4 linked regions of the Homo sapiens genome follow. The protein of the gene in region 1 interacts with the protein of each later gene in a biochemical or structural test. Each region holds a gene or a part of one and is shown in the gene's direction. Other genes may lie near its edges.

Evidence for each region.
Region 2: the proteins of IRF1 (region 1) and STAT1 form a complex in vitro, tested with the Homo sapiens proteins (one study listed by BioGRID).
Region 3: the proteins of IRF1 (region 1) and XAF1 form a complex in vitro, tested with the Homo sapiens proteins (one study listed by BioGRID).
Region 4: the proteins of IRF1 (region 1) and DCAF1 form a complex in vitro, tested with the Homo sapiens proteins (one study listed by BioGRID).

Annotation. Positions count from the first base shown.
Region 1 is NC_000005.10:132,481,103-132,487,805, reverse strand, and holds the end of IRF1 (interferon regulatory factor 1), read left to right. Parts: intron 1-675; coding exon 676-852; intron 853-961; coding exon 962-1,011; intron 1,012-1,119; coding exon 1,120-1,249; intron 1,250-1,432; coding exon 1,433-1,555; intron 1,556-2,089; coding exon 2,090-2,139; intron 2,140-3,308; coding exon 3,309-3,444; intron 3,445-3,730; coding exon 3,731-3,855; 3' UTR 3,856-6,197; downstream 6,198-6,703. UniProt on the Homo sapiens protein: Transcriptional regulator which displays a remarkable functional diversity in the regulation of cellular responses.
Region 2 is NC_000002.12:190,969,142-190,976,179, reverse strand, and holds the end of STAT1 (signal transducer and activator of transcription 1-alpha/beta), read left to right. Parts: intron 1-268; coding exon of another isoform or gene 269-292; coding exon 293-368; coding exon of another isoform or gene 369-372; exon of another isoform or gene 373-642; intron 643-1,247; coding exon 1,248-1,350; intron 1,351-5,462; coding exon 5,463-5,477; 3' UTR 5,478-7,031; downstream 7,032-7,038. UniProt on the Homo sapiens protein: Signal transducer and transcription activator that mediates cellular responses to interferons (IFNs), cytokine KITLG/SCF and other cytokines and other growth factors.
Region 3 is NC_000017.11:6,773,016-6,776,155, forward strand, and holds the end of XAF1 (XIAP-associated factor 1), read left to right. Parts: intron 1-97; coding exon 98-154; 3' UTR 155-2,632; downstream 2,633-3,140. UniProt on the Homo sapiens protein: Seems to function as a negative regulator of members of the IAP (inhibitor of apoptosis protein) family. Inhibits anti-caspase activity of BIRC4. Induces cleavage and inactivation of BIRC4 independent of caspase activation.
Region 4 is NC_000003.12:51,399,000-51,406,037, reverse strand, and holds part of DCAF1 (DDB1- and CUL4-associated factor 1), read left to right. Parts: intron 1-2,642; coding exon 2,643-2,895; intron 2,896-7,038. UniProt on the Homo sapiens protein: Acts both as a substrate recognition component of E3 ubiquitin-protein ligase complexes and as an atypical serine/threonine-protein kinase, playing key roles in various processes such as cell cycle, telomerase regulation and histone modification.

The DNA of each region.
Region 1 (6,703 bases):
GGGAAGAGGGGCTGGTGGCAGACTTGTGTTTCTGGAGAAGAGAGTCGATCATCTCAGCAAATTCTCAAAGGGAAAAGCCAAGATCTTAGAAAGTGTGTGGCTTCAGGGGGTTTGTGGCTAGATGAAAGTTCTCCCTGGCAAAAGCATCTGTGAAAAGCAGCTGTAAGCCAGGGCACTGAAAGAGACCCAGGTCTGCCTTTTTCTTCGTGTTGACCAAGGCCCTTGGTCCAAGCCTCATGTGGTTGGTGGCCTCCTTTATCCTTGAGAGATGGAGCTCTAGGCCCATCTCAGAACAGTCAGCCCACCCATTTAGTAACTGTTCTCTGCTGCCCAGTCTGTGCCCACTCTACCCTCTGGCTGCTGATAGCCCAAGGAGGAAGACTGGGCATAGTCTGAGACACAGATAGTACACTTTGGGGATATGGGGACTCTAGTGCTTCTGGCTGGGCCCTTCACTGAGGCCCGCTAGATGTGTTTAAGCCAAGCCTGGGCATTTGAGAAGGCCCAGGGCCTAGGACCTGCAGAGTGTCACCGGGAGTACCTGCTGGTTTGACCACTGTGGCTCTCTGGTAGCATAAGAGGTCAGGGGTACCTTGCCTTCCTCCTTCAGGCCAGGGGCAGCTGAGGATCCCTACCCATGGCCCTGACGATCCTCTTTTTTCTCCTGCCCTCTAGGCCGATACAAAGCAGGGGAAAAGGAGCCAGATCCCAAGACGTGGAAGGCCAACTTTCGCTGTGCCATGAACTCCCTGCCAGATATCGAGGAGGTGAAAGACCAGAGCAGGAACAAGGGCAGCTCAGCTGTGCGAGTGTACCGGATGCTTCCACCTCTCACCAAGAACCAGAGAAAAGGTATCCAAGGACTCTGGGTCCTTGGGAAGCCCTCAGGGAGGGAGGGTAGAAGGAGGTCAGCTGGGGCTGGAGAGCCTGCACCAAGGCTGACAGCCCGTCTGCCCCACAGAAAGAAAGTCGAAGTCCAGCCGAGATGCTAAGAGCAAGGCCAAGAGGAAGGTGAGTGTGGTCCTAAGCAGCCAGGCCTTTGGTCACCTGTGGGCCAGGGTGAGCAGTGGAAGAAATGCTAAGGTGGGCCTGGGCCTAAGCTGCTTTCTCCCTCGACAGTCATGTGGGGATTCCAGCCCTGATACCTTCTCTGATGGACTCAGCAGCTCCACTCTGCCTGATGACCACAGCAGCTACACAGTTCCAGGCTACATGCAGGACTTGGAGGTGGAGCAGGCCCTGACTCCAGGTGAGCTGGTCCAGGTCTGGCAGGAGACCCCACAGGTCAGTGGGATGACTCTTTCTCTTGGAGGCATGGTGCTGGCACATGGTGGCCCATTAGTGCAGGCTGCAGGGTTGGTCGGAGGGCGCTCGATGTCTTGCAAACTAAGAAAGCACACAACCTTGACCTGTGGCTTCTGCTGTTCCCCAGCACTGTCGCCATGTGCTGTCAGCAGCACTCTCCCCGACTGGCACATCCCAGTGGAAGTTGTGCCGGACAGCACCAGTGATCTGTACAACTTCCAGGTGTCACCCATGCCCTCCACCTCTGAAGGTTGGTGCTCCTGGGGCCTGGCCTGCCTGCTTGACTGTCTGGGTCCTGTGAAGGGCTTCCTGAGAGAGAAAAGATGATCAGAACTCCACCTGGCACTGAATTGATTGAGTTGGGCATTGCCCAGTCTTAGCCACCATAGGGGGAGGCAAGCGACGGGGACACTAGGAAGGCAGTTCAGAGTGGGCTGCAGTACAGTGGGGGCTGGTGAGAGGAGGGAAGGGGGCCAGGGGCTGCATTTTGGGGTGCTGGTTCTCCTTCCTCCTCTGTAGCCCAGCATCTGAGGGTGAGGAAGGAAGTAGGGTAGGGGTGGGAAGCGGCGTGGCTTCAGGGTTTGAGAGGCTGAGTCACCAGGCCAGGGTCCTGTTCTGGAATCTCTATGGCAGATAGGTCCACCGGGAGGGTGTGTGTGTGTGTGTGTGTGTCAGAGAGACAGAGAGACAGAGAAAGGGCAGGGGGATCTGGTGGGCTGGAACTGGAACTGCAGGGTGAGTGTGGCTGACTGCCAGCCAACCTCTCTGCTTTCCCCATCCACAGCTACAACAGATGAGGATGAGGAAGGGAAATTACCTGAGGACATCATGAAGGTAAAGCCCCTTCCTACCTGGGCACTCTTGAAGTGACCGTTTCTCAGTGAGGAGAGAGAACCAGTGAAGCTTCCAAATCAGAGGATGGGTAGCTGCTGTTGTCACCTGGCTGCTTGCATTGTCCCACAAGTGCCACATTCACGTGGCTTGACTGGTGGGAAAGCCACCATGGGAAGGGAAGGCAGGTGGGAGGCCTGGCCTCTGACAGGCCGTCCTGAAGCAAGCCTTGGGGCATCAGACAGCTCTGTGAGTCAGGCACTATCAGCGATGGGTCCCTGGCCTGCATCCTCTGCCCCAACATGCCCCAGCCCTGCTAGTTCGGGAAATGCACATCAGGCTTCAATAATCAGCCTTTAGGATCCGTTAATATGATGATGGCTTTATAGAAAAAGTTAGCAAATTATCCTCCAGGTTTTTTTTTCTGCTTCAGTTTTGAAAGTGAATATAGTTTTTGCAGCCGGGGGCAGTGGCTCATGCCTGTAATCCCAGCACTTTGGAAGGCGAAGGTGGGTGGATCACCTGAGGTCAGGAGTTTGAGACCAGCCTGACTAACATGGTGAAACCCATCTCTACCAAAAATATAAAAATTAGCTGGGCCTGGTGGCGCATGCCTGTAATCCCAGCTACTCTGAAGGCTGAGGCAGGAGAATCGCTTGAACCTGAGAGGCGGAGGTTGCAGTGAGCTGAGATTGTGTCATTGCACTCCAGCCTGGGCAACAAGAGCAAAACTCCATTTCAAAAAAAAGTTTTTGCAGTAGTTGTACGCCAGCTGTTCCATTAGCCCAAAAAATTGAGACATGGATGTCGTTCCTTATCTCTAGCTTTTCTAGTCATCTTTTCTTGATTTATTATGCTAACCTTTGTTTTAAGCCACATTCCCTCTTACTATGTCCTTACACAGTTGAGAGGGAAGTCGTGGAGATGCTATACCAGAGAGTGGGTGTGAGAGGGGTGGGAAAATGAATTGAGGACCAGTGCCAACATGCATTTCTGCCTCCTCCCTCCCGGGCCCTTGTCCTGACTGCAGTGCACTTCTGCATCCTATCTGAGATTGTGAAAATGGCCAAGGGTGTGATACTGGCTGAGAGGAGCTGGCTCATTGAGGGCAGGGCCACAGGGTGAGTCTGCACTGGAAGGGAGTTGATAGCCTCTTGCTCTTCTGTCCCCAGCTCTTGGAGCAGTCGGAGTGGCAGCCAACAAACGTGGATGGGAAGGGGTACCTACTCAATGAACCTGGAGTCCAGCCCACCTCTGTCTATGGAGACTTTAGCTGTAAGGAGGAGCCAGAAATTGACAGCCCAGGGGGTAAGAAGGCCCTGGATCCTTATGGCTTCTTAGATGAGGGAGAACCACGTAGGGATGGAGAAAGCTTGGGGGCAGGGCCAGGGAGCAGGGCGGTAAAGCATCTGGGGTACTGACACATTGTGAATTAGCTACGGCTGCCATGCCTTAAGGTTTGCCTGAAGCTGAGTGGATGTTTACTGCTGTGCTGGGAAGAGCAGAGGCCATGTCTATGGCCTTCAGGGGTAGGGGGAAGCACACCTGATGCCACCGTCCCCTACCCTCATACAACCTTCTTCACATCTTCTAGGGGATATTGGGCTGAGTCTACAGCGTGTCTTCACAGATCTGAAGAACATGGATGCCACCTGGCTGGACAGCCTGCTGACCCCAGTCCGGTTGCCCTCCATCCAGGCCATTCCCTGTGCACCGTAGCAGGGCCCCTGGGCCCCTCTTATTCCTCTAGGCAAGCAGGACCTGGCATCATGGTGGATATGGTGCAGAGAAGCTGGACTTCTGTGGGCCCCTCAACAGCCAAGTGTGACCCCACTGCCAAGTGGGGATGGGGCCTCCCTCCTTGGGTCATTGACCTCTCAGGGCCTGGCAGGCCAGTGTCTGGGTTTTTCTTGTGGTGTAAAGCTGGCCCTGCCTCCTGGGAAGATGAGGTTCTGAGACCAGTGTATCAGGTCAGGGACTTGGACAGGAGTCAGTGTCTGGCTTTTTCCTCTGAGCCCAGCTGCCTGGAGAGGGTCTCGCTGTCACTGGCTGGCTCCTAGGGGAACAGACCAGTGACCCCAGAAAAGCATAACACCAATCCCAGGGCTGGCTCTGCACTAAGAGAAAATTGCACTAAATGAATCTCGTTCCCAAAGAACTACCCCCTTTTCAGCTGAGCCCTGGGGACTGTTCCAAAGCCAGTGAAATGTGAAGGAAAGTGGGGTCCTTCGGGGCGATGCTCCCTCAGCCTCAGAGGAGCTCTACCCTGCTCCCTGCTTTGGCTGAGGGGCTTGGGAAAAAAACTTGGCACTTTTTCGTGTGGATCTTGCCACATTTCTGATCAGAGGTGTACACTAACATTTCCCCCGAGCTCTTGGCCTTTGCATTTATTTATACAGTGCCTTGCTCGGCGCCCACCACCCCCTCAAGCCCCAGCAGCCCTCAACAGGCCCAGGGAGGGAAGTGTGAGCGCCTTGGTATGACTTAAAATTGGAAATGTCATCTAACCATTAAGTCATGTGTGAACACATAAGGACGTGTGTAAATATGTACATTTGTCTTTTTATAAAAAGTAAATTGTTTATAAGGGGTGTGGCCTTTTTAGAGAGAAATTTAACTTGTAGATGATTTTACTTTTTATGGAAACACTGATGGACTTATTATTGGCATCCCGCCTGAACTTGACTTTGGGGTGAACAGGGACATGCATCTATTATAAAATCCTTTCGGCCAGGCGCGGTGGCTCACACCTGTAATCCCAGCACTTTGGGAGGCCGAGATGGGTGGATCACCTGAGGTCAGGAGTTCGAGACCAGCCTGGTGAAACTCCATTTCTACTAAAAATGCAAAAATTAGCTGGGCGTGGTTGCGGGTGCTTGTAATCCCAGCTACTCAGGAGGCTGAGGCAAGAGAATCGCTTGAACCTGGGAGGTGGAGGTTGCAGTGAGCCGAGAACATGCCATTGCACTCCAGCCCGGGCACCAAAAAAAAAAAAAAAAAAAAAAACCTTTCATTTGGCCGGGCATGGTGGCTTATGCCTGTAATCCTGGCACTTTGGGAGGCCAAGGTGGGCAGATCACCTGAGGTCAGGAGTTTGAGACCAGCCTGGCCAACATGGTGAAACCTCATCTCTACTAAAAATACAAAAATTAGGCCGGGCACGGTGGCTCACGCCTGTAATCCCAGCACTTTGGGAGGCAGAGGCGGGCGGATCACGAGGTCAGGAGATCAAGACCATCCTGGCTAACACGGTGAAACCCCGTCTCTACTAAAAATATAAAAAATTAGCCGGGCCTAGTGGCGGGTGCCTGTAGTCCCAGCTACTCGGGAGGCTGAGGCAGGAGAATGGCATGAACCCCGGAGGCAGAGCTTGCAGTGAGCCGAGATTGCACCACTGCACTACAGCCTGGGCGACAGAGCGAGACTCCGTCTCAAAAAAAAAAAAAAAAATTAGCCGGGCCTGGTGGCGGGCGCCTGTAATCCCAGCTACTGTGGAGGCTGAAGCACAAGAATCACTTGAACCCGGGAGATGGAGGTTGCAGTGAGCTGAGACTGTGCCACTGCACTCCAGCCTGGGTGACAAGAGTGAGACTTTGTCTCAAAAAAAAAAAAATCCTTTTGTTTATGTTCACATAGACAATGGCAGAAGGAGGGGACATTCCTGTCATAGGAACATGCTTATATAAACATAGTCACCTGTCCTTGACTATCACCAGGGCTGTCAGTTGATTCTGGGCTCCTGGGGCCCAAGGAGTGTTAAGTTTTGAGGCATGTGCCATAGGTGATGTGTCCTGCTAACACACAGATGCTGCTCCAAAAAGTCAGTTGATATGACACAGTCACAGACAGAACAGTCAGCAGCCCAAGAAAGGTCCTCACGGCTGCTGTGCTGGGTAGCACTTGCCATCCAGTTTCTAGAGTGATGAAATGCTCTGTCTGTACCGTTCAATACAGTAGGCACTGGCACTAGCCACATGTGCCAGCTAAGCACTTGAAATGTGGCCAGTGCAATAAGGAATTGAACTTTTAATTGCATTTAATAAACTGTATGTAAATAGTCACATGTGGTCAGTGGTTACCATATTGAACAGTGCAGGTAGATACTGGACTGGGGGCAGATCTGAGGGAGAGGGGTTTGAGTAGTGGGAGGACACTGGGGATAGGGGCTTGGGGCTATTTACCTGCCATTTTGAGTAGTTTGCTATTTTAGCAGCCAACAATAACTATTGGTGCTGAATACCAGCCCTGCAGTGTAGCATGAGACAGGTCCATGCACACATGCATTAGGAAAACACCTTCATGAAGCAGGATTCTGCCTGGGCTGATGCACACAACCTCTATGGAGGGTAAACAGTGTTTCTGAAGACCGTAGTTTGGGAACCCCTGACATATGACAATGCCCCCTTAGATAAGCTCAAGTTACAGGAATGTCTGAGGGTGGAAGGTGTGGATATGTGCTTTTCCTGTCTCCCTCTTCAGTGTCTGGCCATGGGGCATAAACACTACCCAGCAGTAGGTAGGCTGGCCAAGAGAAGCCAGCTTGCATCACCAGCATCATCTAGGGAAT
Region 2 (7,038 bases), on another chromosome or scaffold:
TTTGGGCTCAGACTTCTTGTAAGATTTCAAGTTGTGTAAAGAGAAAGCTCCTAGCTAGTGTCCTGCTGAACACTAGCTTATTTCCAGACTGAATTCAGATCCTTCTTCTCGTTGTTTCTGCATTCCCACTAGAATTTTAGGTGACTCAGGCAGGGAGGTTATAGCTCCTTAAAGTTTTAGGAGGCTAAGCTGTCTAGAAACACAGTAGAACTTTAATCCCCCCGAAAAGTTGATGTTGTATTCTGATGGAATTTCGGTTGATGGAAAGCGTACACAATGTGTTTATTTCTAGCACCAGAGCCAATGGAACTTGATGGCCCTAAAGGAACTGGATATATCAAGACTGAGTTGATTTCTGTGTCTGAAGTGTAAGTGAACACAGAAGAGTGACATGTTTACAAACCTCAAGCCAGCCTTGCTCCTGGCTGGGGCCTGTTGAAGATGCTTGTATTTTACTTTTCCATTGTAATTGCTATCGCCATCACAGCTGAACTTGTTGAGATCCCCGTGTTACTGCCTATCAGCATTTTACTACTTTAAAAAAAAAAAAAAAGCCAAAAACCAAATTTGTATTTAAGGTATATAAATTTTCCCAAAACTGATACCCTTTGAAAAAGTATAAATAAAATGAGCAAAAGTTGATCAGAGTGGGAAAGTAGTTCTTTTCAATCTAGAAAAGGCCAAAGTAATGATTGAGATACACTGTCTCCACTTGCTTTGATTTTGTTGTTTCATTTTATAAAAGGTAGAAAAAATTTTGGAAATGTCATTGTCAGTTATTTGGCCTGCAGCACTGTCTTGGGGTGAATGGATGTAGCCTTCATGTAAAAACACTGTGTGGAGCAGCTTTATCTGCATTCAAACCTCAAGGTAGGGATGAGGGACTCCCCAGACATTTCTCTGGTGCTTTTCTGTCCAGGGTAAGCCACGAGGCATTGTCATCTCAGGGTAGTGCACCGCACATGCTCACACCTAGGCTTACCCAGGCAGAAGCGGCACAGATTCCAGTCTGGCTATTGCTTATCACATCCCTGGAGTGTGAAACATTTCCCAAGGGGCTGGGCTGGGGACATGAGCCTCCCATGAGCTGTACTTTTGCAAATGTATTTTACAAGTGTATGCACTTACCCAAAATAAAAATATAACGTGATAATTCAATTACAGACAAAAGATAAAGTGTGTAAGTATGCACTAGTGCTTTCATCACTCAGATGTTGACATTGCTCTTTTCTTTTTCCCCATTTTAGTCACCCTTCTAGACTTCAGACCACAGACAACCTGCTCCCCATGTCTCCTGAGGAGTTTGACGAGGTGTCTCGGATAGTGGGCTCTGTAGAATTCGACAGTATGGTGAGTACCACGGCTGGCCTGTGTGTAGCTCTCAATAAGTGTGTGTGCTCAGAGGCAGGGAGCGCACCATGGCAGATCCCGGGCCTGTCTGCGGGAGGGAGCCCTGGCGGAGCCAAGGAGAGTGCAGTGCTCAGATGAGCCATGACAAGTTGGAGCTGCTGGATTTAAACCACCTACATCATCAGTGGGATTTTTATTCCTCGCATTCAGCACCTTCCAAAAAACAAGTGACATTTCTAATATTCAGGTTTCCTCCTCTCCCCTTTAAAGTTGTCCATGTAGAAATTTCATATATTAAGGAACTAAGATTTCTTTGATAAGCAAATGTTTTTCTTCGGAATGCGATTTCATCACTGTGTCTAGGGGAGGGAGTGTTATTTTTAGAAAGGGAGGGACTAACGCTTGGTAGTTACAGTAATTAGAGAGAATTATACTTTAGCAGCAATGAGATTACTTCATCTGCCTTATATTTGAGAGCTAATTTGTACAAGTAGCTCCTGGGGCTGTGAAGGGCTTGCCAAGAGTAAAAGGTTCAAGGAGTGAAATAGTTAATGAGATTCGTGATAGAAATGGGAATATGATTGTCCACAAAAGGGAACATCTTCCTTTTGGAGGGTGCTTTTTTAGTATATCAACTAGTATTGTTTGCCTTTCAGCCTAAAATCCTTCCTCTTAAAGATTGTGCTTGCTTGGCTGGATTTTTGCTGATGCTGTTTAATTTTAAGCTCTTTTCCACATGGAGCTATTCCAGCTCATTTTTAAAAATTTATTTAATGCTTCCAAAAAATATCCTGAGTTATTACTGGCCTTTCTTCCTTACTGTATACCCGGTGCCTGGCAAAAAGTAGGTGCTCAACAAAGAGAGGAAGGCAGGGAGGGGAAAGGTGAGCGAGAATGAGAGGGCGTCACTCTTCAGACATTTGGGGAATGCGATGATAAGGCCTCAGTAAGATCTGCCTGGATTCAGGTTTCTCATGTGTAATTTTTTGACTTTTTTCCTCACCTTAAGCACGGGCTACAATCATTAGAGATTGTACCTTCCTACACTTTCCTGATTGTTGTTGACGAAATAGGCCATTTAGAAAAACAGTTAGCTATTGTGGCAGCGAAATAGTTTCATTCCTATTGGCAAGTGTAAAATGAACCTTTTCTGCATGTAAGAAGGATCCTGCTAGAGTTTCGCTCCCAACACTGCTATAGGCCTGGCACAAAAATGGAATAAATATAAAGCCCTATTCAGAAAATATGTTACATCACAGGAACTGTAAAATGGGGGGATTTTTTATACCTCCTTTGTTGTTCCTGAGCAAATTACATCATCATCACCACCACCATTAATAGGTGACATTAAGCACCTACAGTATACCATGTACTTCACAGGTAGTAACTCATTCAGTCCTCACAGCCACCTTCTGAGTTAGGTGTTATTGTTATTCCTACTTTGACAGATGTGGGAACAGAGCCCCTCCTCCCCACACAGCCCCTTTTATGTAACTTGACTAAGATCAAGCAGTTAGTAAATGGTAGAAAGAATATTTGAATCTACCTAGTGAGTCTCTAGTGCATGCTTTTGTCCGGTATCCTGGAAAGCCTCCCACAAAAAGCTAATCTTTGCCCCATTCAAAACATGCACCCTGAAGAAGCTGTTTGTACAGGATTGGGTTTATTCTGTTATTAAGACAAAGGCATCATGGCCTTTGGGTGAGAGGCCCGTATGTGTTTGGGATTTGGCAATCAGCATTCCATCTCTGTCATCACCATTATTGAGAAAATAGATGGATTGGTTCCCTCTCTGCAGTCCTGTGGAGCAGTTGGACTGCTCTCTCTGCTCTCAGGATGATACTGTGAGAACAATTTAAATATGCTAAGCACATGTCAGGAAACAGTTTTGTGGTCTTTGGACACTCGCTGTAGCCATTCCGTTCCATTTCAGGTGATTTTATTCATTTCATTTGTAGAATAAAATAAATCCATTTCACACACACACACACACACACACACACACACACACACCCTCTATACACCACTAAAGCCTCCCATTAAACCCATAGAAGACTTAAAGAGCTAAAAGAGGCTATAATATAAAAAAAAAAAAAGAAAAGAAAAGAAAAAGAGTTCATAATATAGGCACGGCACTGGTTAGACAACGGTTGAATCAGTCTCTAAATTGGGTTGACTTCACAATGGTTTGCTGTCCTGCCCCTTGGCCATGACTTCCATCCAGCATCTACTCTTAGAATCAGAGTGTATACTCTGAAACAGAAGCAGCTCTCCCCAAGCTGGCTGTCTTCTGCCAAGTCTGGAGGTTGCAGCTCTGAAAGAGGGTGGTACCAGGGGCCAACGCCTGGTGCAGCCTCAGGAGCAACAGGACCATAGGCTCCTGAGGAAATTGTCCAAGAGAGCCAGAGCACCAGTGTTCTCTGCAGTATGACTTGGGCATTTGTTTAGTCTGGATTTCCTGTGTAATCAGTGTTTTCCTCTGGGACTGTAATAGAACCAGTCTACTCTCCAAGAGGCCTTTAGCCAAAGCTCATAATGATAGGACTAGCTATTAATTGTCTACTACTTTCTGTCTACTATACTAAACATTTTACGTATGCCATCTAATTTAACAAGCCTATCTGCTAGGTACTATTAATCCCCTTTTGATAGATGAAGACTTTGAGATTTAGAGAGGTTAAGCCACTTGCCCTGGTCACGCAGTGACAGGATCTGAATCTGGGCTTCCTCTCTTCCTCTATCTATCTATCTCCCCCTCCCTCCCTCTCTTTACCCCCACGGTCCACCCTATTAAGCACACATTTGAAACATCAGCCAGGCCGGGCGCGGTGGCTCACGCCTGTAATCTCAACATTTTGGGAGGCCGGGGCAGGTGGATCACCTGCGATCAGGAGTTTGAGACCAGCCTGGCCAACACGGTGAAACCCCATCTCTACTAAAAATACAAAAATTAGCCAGCCATGGTGGTGTGTGCCTGTAATCCCAGCTACTAGGGGGGCTGAGGCAGGAGGATCGCTTGAACCTGGAAGGTGGAGGTTGCAGTGAGCCAAGATGGTGCCACTGCACTCCAGTCTGGGCAACAGAGGAAGACTCCGTCTCCAATTTGAAAAAAAAAAAGAAAGAAAAAGAAAAGAGAAACATAAGCTAGACTGAAACATAGGGGCAACACTTTCACTGTGCTTTTCAATCCAAAATAATTTTCCTAAGAGCCCACTATGTACCACACACTATTGAGCACTTGGGATTAAAAAAAAGTTCTCCAGAGGCTTTCCAGTCTAGTGCCATGTGTCTCAGTCTTGGTGCTACTGGTATTCGGGGCTTCAGAATTATTTGTTGGGGATTGGTGGGGTGGGGAGCTTTCCTGTGCTTCGTAGGAGGTTCAGCAACACCTCTGGCTTCTACCAAATAGATACCAGTAAGCACATGCACCCTCACAGCCAGATGGGACAATCAGCAATGTCTTCAGCCATTGCCAGGGGACAGAATCATCCTCGATTGAAAGCATCTGGTCTAAGGGGAAAGACCAGTGTGGAAGTCAGACAGGAAGTCACTGGCAGGCTAGTATCCTTTGGATGAACAGTTTACTTACTATAAGTTGTCCTGGTCAAGGCAGCTGGGCAGAAGGCACTGGTGGGGAAGGTGAAGGGGTTCTTAGTAATTCTGCTTCTTTAGTCTGTACCTGAAACACAGTCATTGATTTTACCCACTGAGTGGCCTTTAGGGGAAGTGTATCATTTCCCTCTCCTTCCTCTCTCCCTCTGGCATATGGCTCAGCATTTCCTCACCCGTTTCACATGAGCAGATTTGACACGTTGCTCTGTCCCCAGACTTGCATAACAGCAAAAAGCTTTATGCAGTCTGGATGGATTCACAAAATTAAGCCAGTGGGCAGCAGAGTAATAATCCGTCAGCTTAGGTGATATAAAAGGTCTTGATTAGCCCAGGATAATACATAGTACATGCTGAAGGCCCTCTTATTCCACGGTATTTATTTGCCATTGCAAGTATCTTCCTACTACTTCATTCTAGAATAGACAAGCAATGTTTAATGTATGAGTCTGCATTTCACAAGATCAGTGTAATAAACTTAACCACATTTTGTCTTTTTACAGATGAACACAGTATAGAGCATGAATTTTTTTCATCTTCTCTGGCGACAGTTTTCCTTCTCATCTGTGATTCCCTCCTGCTACTCTGTTCCTTCACATCCTGTGTTTCTAGGGAAATGAAAGAAAGGCCAGCAAATTCGCTGCAACCTGTTGATAGCAAGTGAATTTTTCTCTAACTCAGAAACATCAGTTACTCTGAAGGGCATCATGCATCTTACTGAAGGTAAAATTGAAAGGCATTCTCTGAAGAGTGGGTTTCACAAGTGAAAAACATCCAGATACACCCAAAGTATCAGGACGAGAATGAGGGTCCTTTGGGAAAGGAGAAGTTAAGCAACATCTAGCAAATGTTATGCATAAAGTCAGTGCCCAACTGTTATAGGTTGTTGGATAAATCAGTGGTTATTTAGGGAACTGCTTGACGTAGGAACGGTAAATTTCTGTGGGAGAATTCTTACATGTTTTCTTTGCTTTAAGTGTAACTGGCAGTTTTCCATTGGTTTACCTGTGAAATAGTTCAAAGCCAAGTTTATATACAATTATATCAGTCCTCTTTCAAAGGTAGCCATCATGGATCTGGTAGGGGGAAAATGTGTATTTTATTACATCTTTCACATTGGCTATTTAAAGACAAAGACAAATTCTGTTTCTTGAGAAGAGAATATTAGCTTTACTGTTTGTTATGGCTTAATGACACTAGCTAATATCAATAGAAGGATGTACATTTCCAAATTCACAAGTTGTGTTTGATATCCAAAGCTGAATACATTCTGCTTTCATCTTGGTCACATACAATTATTTTTACAGTTCTCCCAAGGGAGTTAGGCTATTCACAACCACTCATTCAAAAGTTGAAATTAACCATAGATGTAGATAAACTCAGAAATTTAATTCATGTTTCTTAAATGGGCTACTTTGTCCTTTTTGTTATTAGGGTGGTATTTAGTCTATTAGCCACAAAATTGGGAAAGGAGTAGAAAAAGCAGTAACTGACAACTTGAATAATACACCAGAGATAATATGAGAATCAGATCATTTCAAAACTCATTTCCTATGTAACTGCATTGAGAACTGCATATGTTTCGCTGATATATGTGTTTTTCACATTTGCGAATGGTTCCATTCTCTCTCCTGTACTTTTTCCAGACACTTTTTTGAGTGGATGATGTTTCGTGAAGTATACTGTATTTTTACCTTTTTCCTTCCTTATCACTGACACAAAAAGTAGATTAAGAGATGGGTTTGACAAGGTTCTTCCCTTTTACATACTGCTGTCTATGTGGCTGTATCTTGTTTTTCCACTACTGCTACCACAACTATATTATCATGCAAATGCTGTATTCTTCTTTGGTGGAGATAAAGATTTCTTGAGTTTTGTTTTAAAATTAAAGCTAAAGTATCTGTATTGCATTAAATATAATATGCACACAGTGCTTTCCGTGGCACTGCATACAATCTGAGGCCTCCTCTCTCAGTTTTTATATAGATGGCGAGAACCTAAGTTTCAGTTGATTTTACAATTGAAATGACTAAAAAACAAAGAAGACAACATTAAAACAATATTGTTTCTAATTGCTGA
Region 3 (3,140 bases), on another chromosome or scaffold:
ATGCTCTGTAACAAGGGACAGCAATATCCAGAGATATTCTAGGAGCTAGCACTTCTTACTTTAACCATATCAAACTTTTTTTATATCCATTTCTTAGGAGAAATGCCGGTGGTTAGCTTCATCAAAAGGAAAACAAGTGAGAAATTTCAGCTAGATTTGGAAAAGGAAAGGTACTACAAATTCAAAAGATTTCACTTTTAACACTGGCATTCCTGCCTACTTGCTGTGGTGGTCTTGTGAAAGGTGATGGGTTTTATTCGTTGGGCTTTAAAAGAAAAGGTTTGGCAGAACTAAAAACAAAACTCACGTATCATCTCAATAGATACAGAAAAGGCTTTTGATAAAATTCAACTTGACTTCATGTTAAAAACCCTCAACAAACCAGGCGTCGAAGGAACATACCTCAAAATAATAAGAGCCATCTATGACAAAACCACAGCCAACATCATACTGAATGAGCAAAAGCTGGAGCATTACTCTTGAGAAGTAGAACAAGGCACTTCAGTCCTATTCAACATAGTACTGGAAGTCCTCGCCACAGCAATCAGGCAAGAGAAAGAAATAAAAGGCAACCAAAAAGAAAGGAAGTCGAAGTATCTCTGTTTGCAGACGATATGATTCTATATCTAGAAAACCCCATGATCTTGGCCCAAAAGCTCCTAGATCTGATAAACAACTTCAGCTAACTTTCAGGAGACAAAATCAATATACAAAATATGGTAGCATTTTTATACACCAACGACATCCAAGCTGAGAGCCAAATCAAGAATGCAATCCTATTCACAATTGCCACAAAAAGAATAAAATACCTAGGAATACAGCTAACCAGGGAGATGAAAGATCTCTACAACAAAAATTACAAAACACTGCTGAAAGAAATCAGAGATGACACAAATGGAAAAACATTCCATACTTATGGATAGGAAGAATCAATATTGTTAAAATGGCCATACTACCCAAAGCAATTTATAGATTCAATGCTATTCCTATCAAACTACCAATAACATTCTTCACAGAATCAGAAAAAAAAAGCATTAAAATTTATTTGAAACCAAAAAAGAGCCCAAAAAGCCAAAGCAATCCTAAGCAAAAAGAACAAAGCTGGAGGCATCGCATTACCCAACTTCAAACTATACTACAGGGCTACAGTAACCAAAACTGCATGATACTGGTACAAAAGCATGGTGCTGGTACAAAAGCAGACACATAGATCAATGGAACAGAATAGAGGGCCCAGAAATAAAGCTACACACCTACAACCATCTAATCTTTGACAAAGTTGACAAAAATACGCAATGGGGAAAGAATTCCCCATTCAGTAAGTGGTACTGGGATAACTAGCTAGCCATATGCAGAGGATTGAAACTGAACCACTTCCTTACACCATATGCAAAAATCAACTCAAGATGGATTAAAGACTTAAATGTAAAACCCCAAACTATAAAAACTCTGGAAGATAACCTAGGCAATACCATTCTGGACATAGGAACGGAAAAAGATTTCATGACAAAGATCCCAAAAATAATTGTAACGAAAGCAAAAATTGACAAATGGGACATGATTAAACAGAATTACCATTTGACTCAGCAATCCCATTATTGGTTATATACCCAAAGGAATCTAAATCATTCTGTCATAAAGACATATATACACAAATGTTCACGGCAGCACTATACACAATCGCAAAGTCAGGGAATCAAACTAAATGTCCATCAGTGGTAGAAAGGATAAAGAAAATGTGGTGGCAGGGAGTGGTGGCTCATGTCTGTAATCCCAGCACTTTGGGAGGCTGAGGCGGGTGGTTCACCTGAGGTCAGGAGTTTGAGACCAGCCTGGCCAACATGGAGAAACTCCGTCTCCGCTAAAAATACGAAAATTAGCCAGGCGTGGTGGCGAGCACCTGTCATCCCAGCTACTTGGGAGGCCTAGGCGTGAGAATCGCTTGAACCTGGAAGGTGGTGGTTGCAGTGAGCCGAGATCCTGCCACTGCACTCCAGCCTGGGCAACCAAGCGAGACTCTGCCTTAAAAAAAAAAAAAAGAAAATGTGGCACATATACACCATGGAATACTATGCAGCCATAAAAAAGAATGGGATCATGTCCTGTGCAGCAACGTGGATGGAGCTGGAAGCCATTATCCTAAATGAACTCACTCAGAAACAGAAAACCAAATACCACATGTTCTCACTTATAAGTAGAAGCTAAACATTGAGTACACATGGATACAAAGAAGGGAACCGCAGACACTGGGGCCTACCTGAGGTCGGAGCATGGAAGGAGGGTGAGGATCAAAAAACTACCTATCTGGTACTATGCTTTTTATCTGGATGATGAAATAATCTGTACAACAAACCCTGGTGACATGCAATTTACCTATATAGCAAGCCTACACATGTGCCCCTGAACCTAAAAAAAAAGTTAAAAGAAAAACGTTTGGATTATTTTCCCTCTTTCGAACAAAGACATTGGTTTGCCCAAGGACTACAAATAAACCAACGGGAAAAAAGAAAGGTTCCAGTTTTGTCTGAAAATTCTGATTAAGCCTCTGGGCCCTACAGCCTGGAGAACCTGGAGAATCCTACACCCACAGAACCCGGCTTTGTCCCCAAAGAATAAAAACACCTCTCTAAAAGCTGCTCTTCCACCTTTCTTTGGGTTCCGCACTGGTTTTCCAGGGCCAGGAATGGCAGCAGCCAGGACCCCAGGATAAGGGCAGTGCCCAAGGAAAGGGGAGCAGAAGACATTCAGGGAGGGGGAAAGAAATGAGGCTGGGACAGTGGATAAGGGCCAGGTGAAGGGGAGAGGGGCGGCTTCTGAAGGCTTTGGGCAGGGAGAGTGGCTGGGGGAAGCCTAGTAATGCAACCTATCCAGCGGCGGCTTCGGAAAAAACCCGGGGCTGGGTCAGGATGGGAAAGGCAGCGAACTGAACCGTTTTGAGCCCCAAGTTCGGGGCCGAATGTCTTCCCTGTGCGCAGAAGCAAGGGCGGGGGCGTGCCATCCTCACCCGGAGCGCCGGCCGAGCCTCCCGCCTCCCAACGCCTGGCCAGGGCCCCGTCTCGCCCTCTGCACATGGGATCCACTGACCAGGCAACTGCAGGTTTGGGGCTCTGCGACCCGGGGGCAGGAACAGAGCCTTGCAG
Region 4 (7,038 bases), on another chromosome or scaffold:
CAAAGAAATGGGATCTCACTCTGTTGCCCAGGCTGGAGTGCAGTGGCACAATCGTAGTTCAATGTAGCCTTGAATTCCTGGGTTCAAGTGATCCTCCTGCCTCAGCTTCCTGAGTAGCTGGGACTACAGGTGTGTGCCGTTGTGCCCAGCTAAGCTTTGCTTTTTCATTAAATAATTATTTTTAGTTTTTACTTTTTGGACCACTCATTATTGGAAGCTTTATTCTTTAGATCTGAAGGAGAGGGGTTCATGCCACCAGTTACTTGACCAGCAGAGAATGCACCTAAAATTGCTTCCTAGAATCTCTTTTGGGTTCTGCCACAGCATTTTGGATGAGTCTTGTGAGCCTCTGCTTCATGATCCCAGTTTCAGATTTAAAATTTGGAAAGTGAGTTTATGGCTATGTCCATGTGTGACAAAATGCATGGTGAGAAATCAGCATTGGGCATTAAATACAAAGTAGAGACGACAAAGTGAGGTGCTCAACTTGAGATTCAGGTAGATCTCTTTCCTACTAATTTCCCCTCCTCTCTCTCATGGTCACATATGTGTTTGTGGCCTTCTGGGATGAATATATATACATCTGTTTCTTCTGCTATAAAATTAAGTAAAATTTGGGTTTGTCTGCTGCTGGAAGAGTTTGGAATGGTATCTAGTTCAAAGCTTAGACCCTGCTTGAAAATATTCCAGGATTGCTCTTGATATGGAAGCTTTTTGTTCAGTTCTTCTAGATCAGCTAAGCCTCAATGTTCTTCAAAATGAAAGAGAATTGTCTTCATGAATTTTCTGGCTAGCCCATGCCTATTTGAGCAGTTTAACCTTTCATGTACACACTCAACCGTGGACCTTTAGTTGTGCTATCTTAAATTTTAAATATAAGTGTTCTGTCCACGAAGCCTTAAGACACAGGGCCCTGGGTACTTTCTTCCTTACTTATTTTTAACTGTGGCACTTTGTTAGTGGATTAGCTAATTTTGGTCAAGTCTATGAAAATACGCCTGGAAAAAGAGGCAAAAGTTGTAATCTGGTAAGCACTTGGATGATATCCCCTGAATTTTGACCCCGCTCTCCTTTCCCAGTTATTTGTATGAGCTTATGTGCTTGTAGGGGCTGAGAGCCTGTCTGTGTTTCAGTTTATCATTGTTGACTCCAGACACTCATAGTTCCTTTGAGGCGGGTGAATGCTTAGTAGTTATTTATCCACTCACCTCTGGAGGGGATGTGTGGCCAAGGCTTTGGAATAGTCTCAGGCCTTCTATGTGTGTGTGTGTTGGCACATACACAAATGCTCCCACCGAATCTGGTACAGACCATACACGCACTTGCACAAGTATTAGGAGTACTAGGTATTTAAAAGGGGCTCAGTTTTTCCAACATAACTGGCAGAAATTTTGAAGAGTCTAAATTACTGAATTACACAGTTTATCAAAAAGTCACTAATGGTGGTTCCAAAATTACCAGAAGTCCACAAAGCGGAGCTACCCTGCTGAATGATCCTAGCTTATGTTACACACTGGTTTCTAGTGGCTGGGTAAGCACAAAATGCTTGTTTTTTAAGTGCTTGGCAGGCAATAACACCTTCAAAATGAAAAAAGATGTAACCACTGAGTATAAGTTTTAAAATAATAAGAACAAAAAAAATTTTTTTGTGCTTACGTTGGGCTTATTCCATCTTGAATTTCATTAGGTTGATGTATTAAATGAATTTTACATTTTATTATTGTAACAATTAGAATCCTTTGCTATTGGCAAGGCTGACAGTTGATGTTTGAGCAGAAAGATAAGTGTCTTGAGTGGCAGCTACGTTTACTTGGAAATGCCTCTTATCCCTGTCAAAGCAAAGAGGTATCTTTGTGTCCTCTCCCTTTTGAAGGGAAACAGTTGGGATTCTAATGCAAACCTGAAATCTGTGGCAGATGCCAGAATGTACCATTTACAAAGCCCAGAGTCCCTAGAACAAAGTATTTCATTGATGTTCTGGTAATTTTCTTGCCTTTGCAAGTTCTTGTAAGAATGGAAAGAAAGATAGTTTCTCCAGCATACTTTTTTTTCTTTTTGGCTTATGACAGGAAATATGGGTTTCTGTTAGTGTTCTATATTTTAAGTCTTTTGTTGCAATGTTGTTCTGATCAAATGTTTGTGATAGCATAGTTAGGAGCTTATCCACATTCTTGGTTAGAAGATCAAGGGCAAGAGCTTGAAGGGCTGAGGAGATAATGAGCAGTTGTGTTCTTCCATTTTGTTAAAGCATTGCATTTTAGATTCCAGGTAAAAGGATTTTTTCTAGTGTCTCAGCTGATTTCACTTGCTTTGGTTGATGCAGGTGAGAAAGAAGAGTCCCCTTGGGCTCCTAGAATATTGAAGGCAGAGACTTCTGTGAAGCGAGTTGTCTGTTTCCTTGCATAAGGGCTATGTGACCATTAATCCTTGTCTGAGGGGTGCTTTGACCGTCTTGAGGGACATGTGTGCCTATCTCAGCCATCACTGACAAGTCTGGCTGGCTCATGAAGTCTGTGCTCGTCTAGATCACTACTACCCTCTACTGACAGTTTCCTACCCTGTCTCTTTGGTCGACCCGCCATGTGGCCCCCATGGGTCAGGCCTCTGTGTTTGTACTAATGAACATTACGCTTTCTTACCAGGAAGAGGAAGAACAGGAGGAAGAAGATGATGATGAAGATGATGATGACACCGATGATTTAGATGAGCTTGACACTGACCAGTTGCTGGAGGCGGAGTTGGAGGAGGACGACAATAATGAGAACGCAGGGGAAGATGGGGACAATGACTTCTCTCCCTCTGATGAGGAGCTAGCAAACCTTCTAGAGGAGGGAGAGGACGGGGAGGATGAAGACTCTGATGCAGATGAGGAGGTGGAACTGATCCTGGGGGACAGTAAGTATAGGGCAGAGTTCAGGCTGAGCCTTGGCACCCAGGGCAAGATCCCTTCTTTTGTGCCCATACAACTTAGAGGGCAAGCCATACCACGGTTCTGTGCCCCATAATTTGATTCACTACTCTGGTCTCTTGAGGCAAAGCACCTTTGCATCTCTGCCCTCCTCTCCTGTCAGACTGTGGAACCCAACCAAATGGCTGTCATTTCTTATCTTTCAAGTAGAGATTGGCAGACTTTTTCTGTAAGATCAGACAGTAAATATTTTATGCAGCCGGGCACGGTGGCTCACGCCTGTAATCCCAGCACTTTGGAGGCTGAGGCGGGTGGATCACCTGAGGTCAGGAGTTCGAGACCAGCCTGGGCAACATGATGAAATCCTGTCTCTACTAAAAATACAAAATTAGCTGGGCGTGGTGGCACATGCCTATAATCCCAGCTACTTGGGAGGCTGAGGCAGGAGAATCGCTTGAACCTGGGAGGCGGAGGTTGCAGTGAGCCGAGATCGTGCCACTGCACTCCAGGCTGGGATAATAGAGTGAGACTCCATCTCAAAAAAAAAAAAAAAAAAAAAAAAATGCTTTGTAGGGTATATGGCCTTTGTTGCAGCTCTTCAACTCTGCTGTTGTAGTGAGAAAGCAGTCATAGACAATCCGTAAATGAATGATTGTGGCTGTGTTCTAATAAAACTTTGTTTTGCAAAAATAGGTGGTGGGCTTGTAGTTTGTCAACTCCTGCTTCAGAGGATTAGCCTTAGAATGAAAGGCCAAAGTGTAGCTCTCCGCCGAGAGGCATGGCTAGAATCAGTCAGAAGCAGCCCCTCATGGGGTGCTGTTCTTTTTGGGGTGAATTATAAAGAAATGCAGGCCCTCTTGTGGAGGAGCCCTTTCCTGTCTCCCTTTGGCTAATCCCTCCTAACAGCCAAGGGGAAAATATTTTCCCTTTGGCTTCTGGTTTATTCACTTCCTTTTATTTACCTTTTTTTCTTAATCCAAATTTTGAGGAACAAACTCCAGTTCTTCTAGTTATTTCCCATTAGGTTTCTGAAGTCAAGTTGTCCCCTGACTATGGTAATGAATCCTGCAGAAATCAGCAAATAGTTCAAAGAGGCTGTTAGCTCTGCAGCTGTACATGAATCTTCTTACCAAGGCTGTATTTTGAGGAAGCTTGAGGGTGGGAGGGTAGGGGAGTGTCTTCTATATGTTCATCTGCTGTTCATCAACTTCTGTTTTTTCATACTTGGAGGCTGAGGTGATTCAGTGGAGTAGGCCGAAGCCTGGTCAGACAAAGTTTTAATGAACGTTTTTGTCACGTGTGAATAGTGAGACATGGGAAACAAGTTATACCTCCTTTCAATTACAAGTAGTTAGCAGGGCAGGTTCGCAGGGTCAGCAAACAGCAGGCCAGCTGATGGTGGTGCTCCCAAAATAAGAGAGCATCACTTTAATTTTTCCATTCTTAATTTGAATATAAAGCCACTCAGTTTGTATTTGGCCTGTACAATTACTGCCTCTTTTAGCTGTTGAGGAAATTCCTTCTTTCAAGCCAAAGGTAATCTGGAAAACTTTAACTCTATCAGTTGTGAGAATGTTGTTACTTTATGAGAATATTTACGATGTGAAAATAATGGATCACAACTTGAGGACGTCTCAGAGTGGACTTCAGAATTGAGGTGGAGATGCAGAGGTGGCATCTGGAGCACACTCCATGGCTCTTTCTGTGTTTCATAGAAGAGCCAGCTGCTGTCAGCAAGGAGAGCATTCTTAGCACCCATGGTTTTGCCTAACACTAATCCTTTAGAGCAGTAGCTCTGAACCTTACTGGGCTTATGAAGAGCCCTTTTAGGATAGGGTGAAAGCCATAGAAACTATAGAAAACCACACCCATGCGCCCCCACGTACCTTTACGTAGGCCCTGGAGTCTGCAGGGACTCCCTGATTGCAGATGCAGAGCCCTGGCCCTAGGAAGAGAAACAGCTTGATTCTGAGATCTTTTTTTTTTTTTTTTTTTTTTGAGATGGAGTCTCACTCTGTTGCCCAGGCTGGAGTGCAGTGGCGCAGTCTTGGCTCACTGCAAGCTCCGCCTCCCGGGTTCATGCCATTCTCTTGCCTCAGCCTCCTGAGTAGCTGGGACTACAGGCGCCCGCCACCACCCCCAGCTAATTTTTTGTATTTTTAGTAGAGACAGGGTTTCACCGTGTTAGCCAGGATGGTCTTGATCTCCTGACGTCGTGATCCGCCTGCTTTGGCCTCCCAAAGTGCTGGGATACAGGCATCAGCCACTGCACCCGGCCTGATTCTGAGATCTTTATGTGTCTCTGCTTGTCAGCCCTGCCTCCAGAACCTGTATGTTGTAGAGCGATAGGTTAAACACTACAGGGATTAATTATACCTAGATTGTCTGCCTTAGCGACCTTTCAGAATGGGAGGTCCTAACCAGGGTTTGGGATTGGGTCACTTCAACACTTGGAGAATGGGGAAAGGATAAGGAAGGTGGGGAAAGGATAAGGAAGGTAGAGAAAGGCGTCCTATGGTCTGACCACCAGAGGGGAGTTGGTGCCCAAGCCCTGGAGGTTTTCTCTCAGACCTTGAGCCTGACAGTTACTTGCTTAAAGAAGATTGTGCTGTGACCTCGTTAAGCTGCATTTACAGTTCTTAGATGTGCTACAGCGTGGTTAAGATTCTTAGTTCTTAAGAGCTGCATAGCTGCTGGGCAGAAGGGTCTCAGGCCGGTGGGTCTGGCATTGTTGGCTTGTGGAGAGCATGAGTCCTGGGGGATGCTGTGGATGCTGCCGCAGGGACCAGGCAAGTTTGTGGTATGGGGTGGGGACACAGTGCTGGACTTGGCTCTGGGGAGGAGGCCCCACACCCTCCTGTGACACTTCCTCCTGGAGCTCTTACAGCAGAGGAGCTGAGGCTTGCTTTGTTCAGCTGTGTTAGATAATAGTTCTTTGCCATCTCCATCTTGTTTTCCTACTCTTCACCAATACATCACCAATACAGTCAGGCCACTCTTGTGCCCACTTAGACCCAGGAACACTGGTTTTGTCAGCCATTTCTTTTGCTTACTTCCAGACTTTTTTGTATCATTGCCATGCTTTTCTTGGTTTTCCTTTGTCCACTTCAGTTTTCCTCCTAAAGGAAGTTGTGTTTGGGGATAATGAATGAAGGAAGGTTTGGGAACATGATTGCTCTCTGTTTGTCCAAGAGTTGATTCTCTTAGGCACTGGAAAAAGGCTGATGAGGGATTCTTTGCATCTAGTGGCTGCCCCTTACCACATGGGGCATTTGCAGGGCTCCAGCTCAGGGTTTGTCTGTTTTACGGGCTCAGGGTTTGTCTGTTTTATGGGGGACCTAGGTAAAATGGTTTCATAGCCTCCTGAGCTACGAGTAATCAAATTGGGCACTGAGAACTTTCCTTTTCTTTGACTCAGCGAATATTAGAGTCCCTACAAGCTAGGTACCCTGTTTCTTTCTGATTTTGATCAGCCAGACATGGTGTATCTACCTCATCTTGAGGGTCCTTTTTGCTACCACTTAAGTTTCACCCCTTAACAGATCCTTCCAGAAGTGTTAATGTGTCCGTGTGCTGCCAGAGAAGGCAGATTGTCAAGCAGAGAGGGTCCTCATCAGAGACAGTGCTGTCTTCCAGGGCGTCACACTGCTCCCGCTGGCCTCCTGCCTCTGGATGGGTAGCTACTTCTCTTGTATTGCTGCAAATTGGCCTGCACCTTTTTGGGAATATAATTTGCAGACTATATTCTGAAATTACAGAGGCATGAATCTAGGGTGACTATCTCTGCCTTGGTGGTCGGTCTTCTGAGGATTGAAGGGAGTGACTAAGGTGTTTCAGAAAAGATACATCTCTCACTTTTGCCTGGTCTTAGCCTGCCTTTCTAGTGGTCTCTTGGGGTCAGGCAGGCCTGTGCGTATCCTTGAAGGACAGCAGAGGCCAAGGGCCATGGAGGCTTACTCACTGCTCCCGTCAGCTCTGCCCCTTTGCAGCCATTTAAAGTGGCATGGGGGGAAGCTTCAGATGGCACTCGCTTGATCCCTTCAGCGCCTCCCAGGCAGGAAGCAGGGGAACTGTGTCCAGGCCCTTAGGAGAGCAAAAGGTCTCCGGGAGAATACAACTGCCAAGCAACA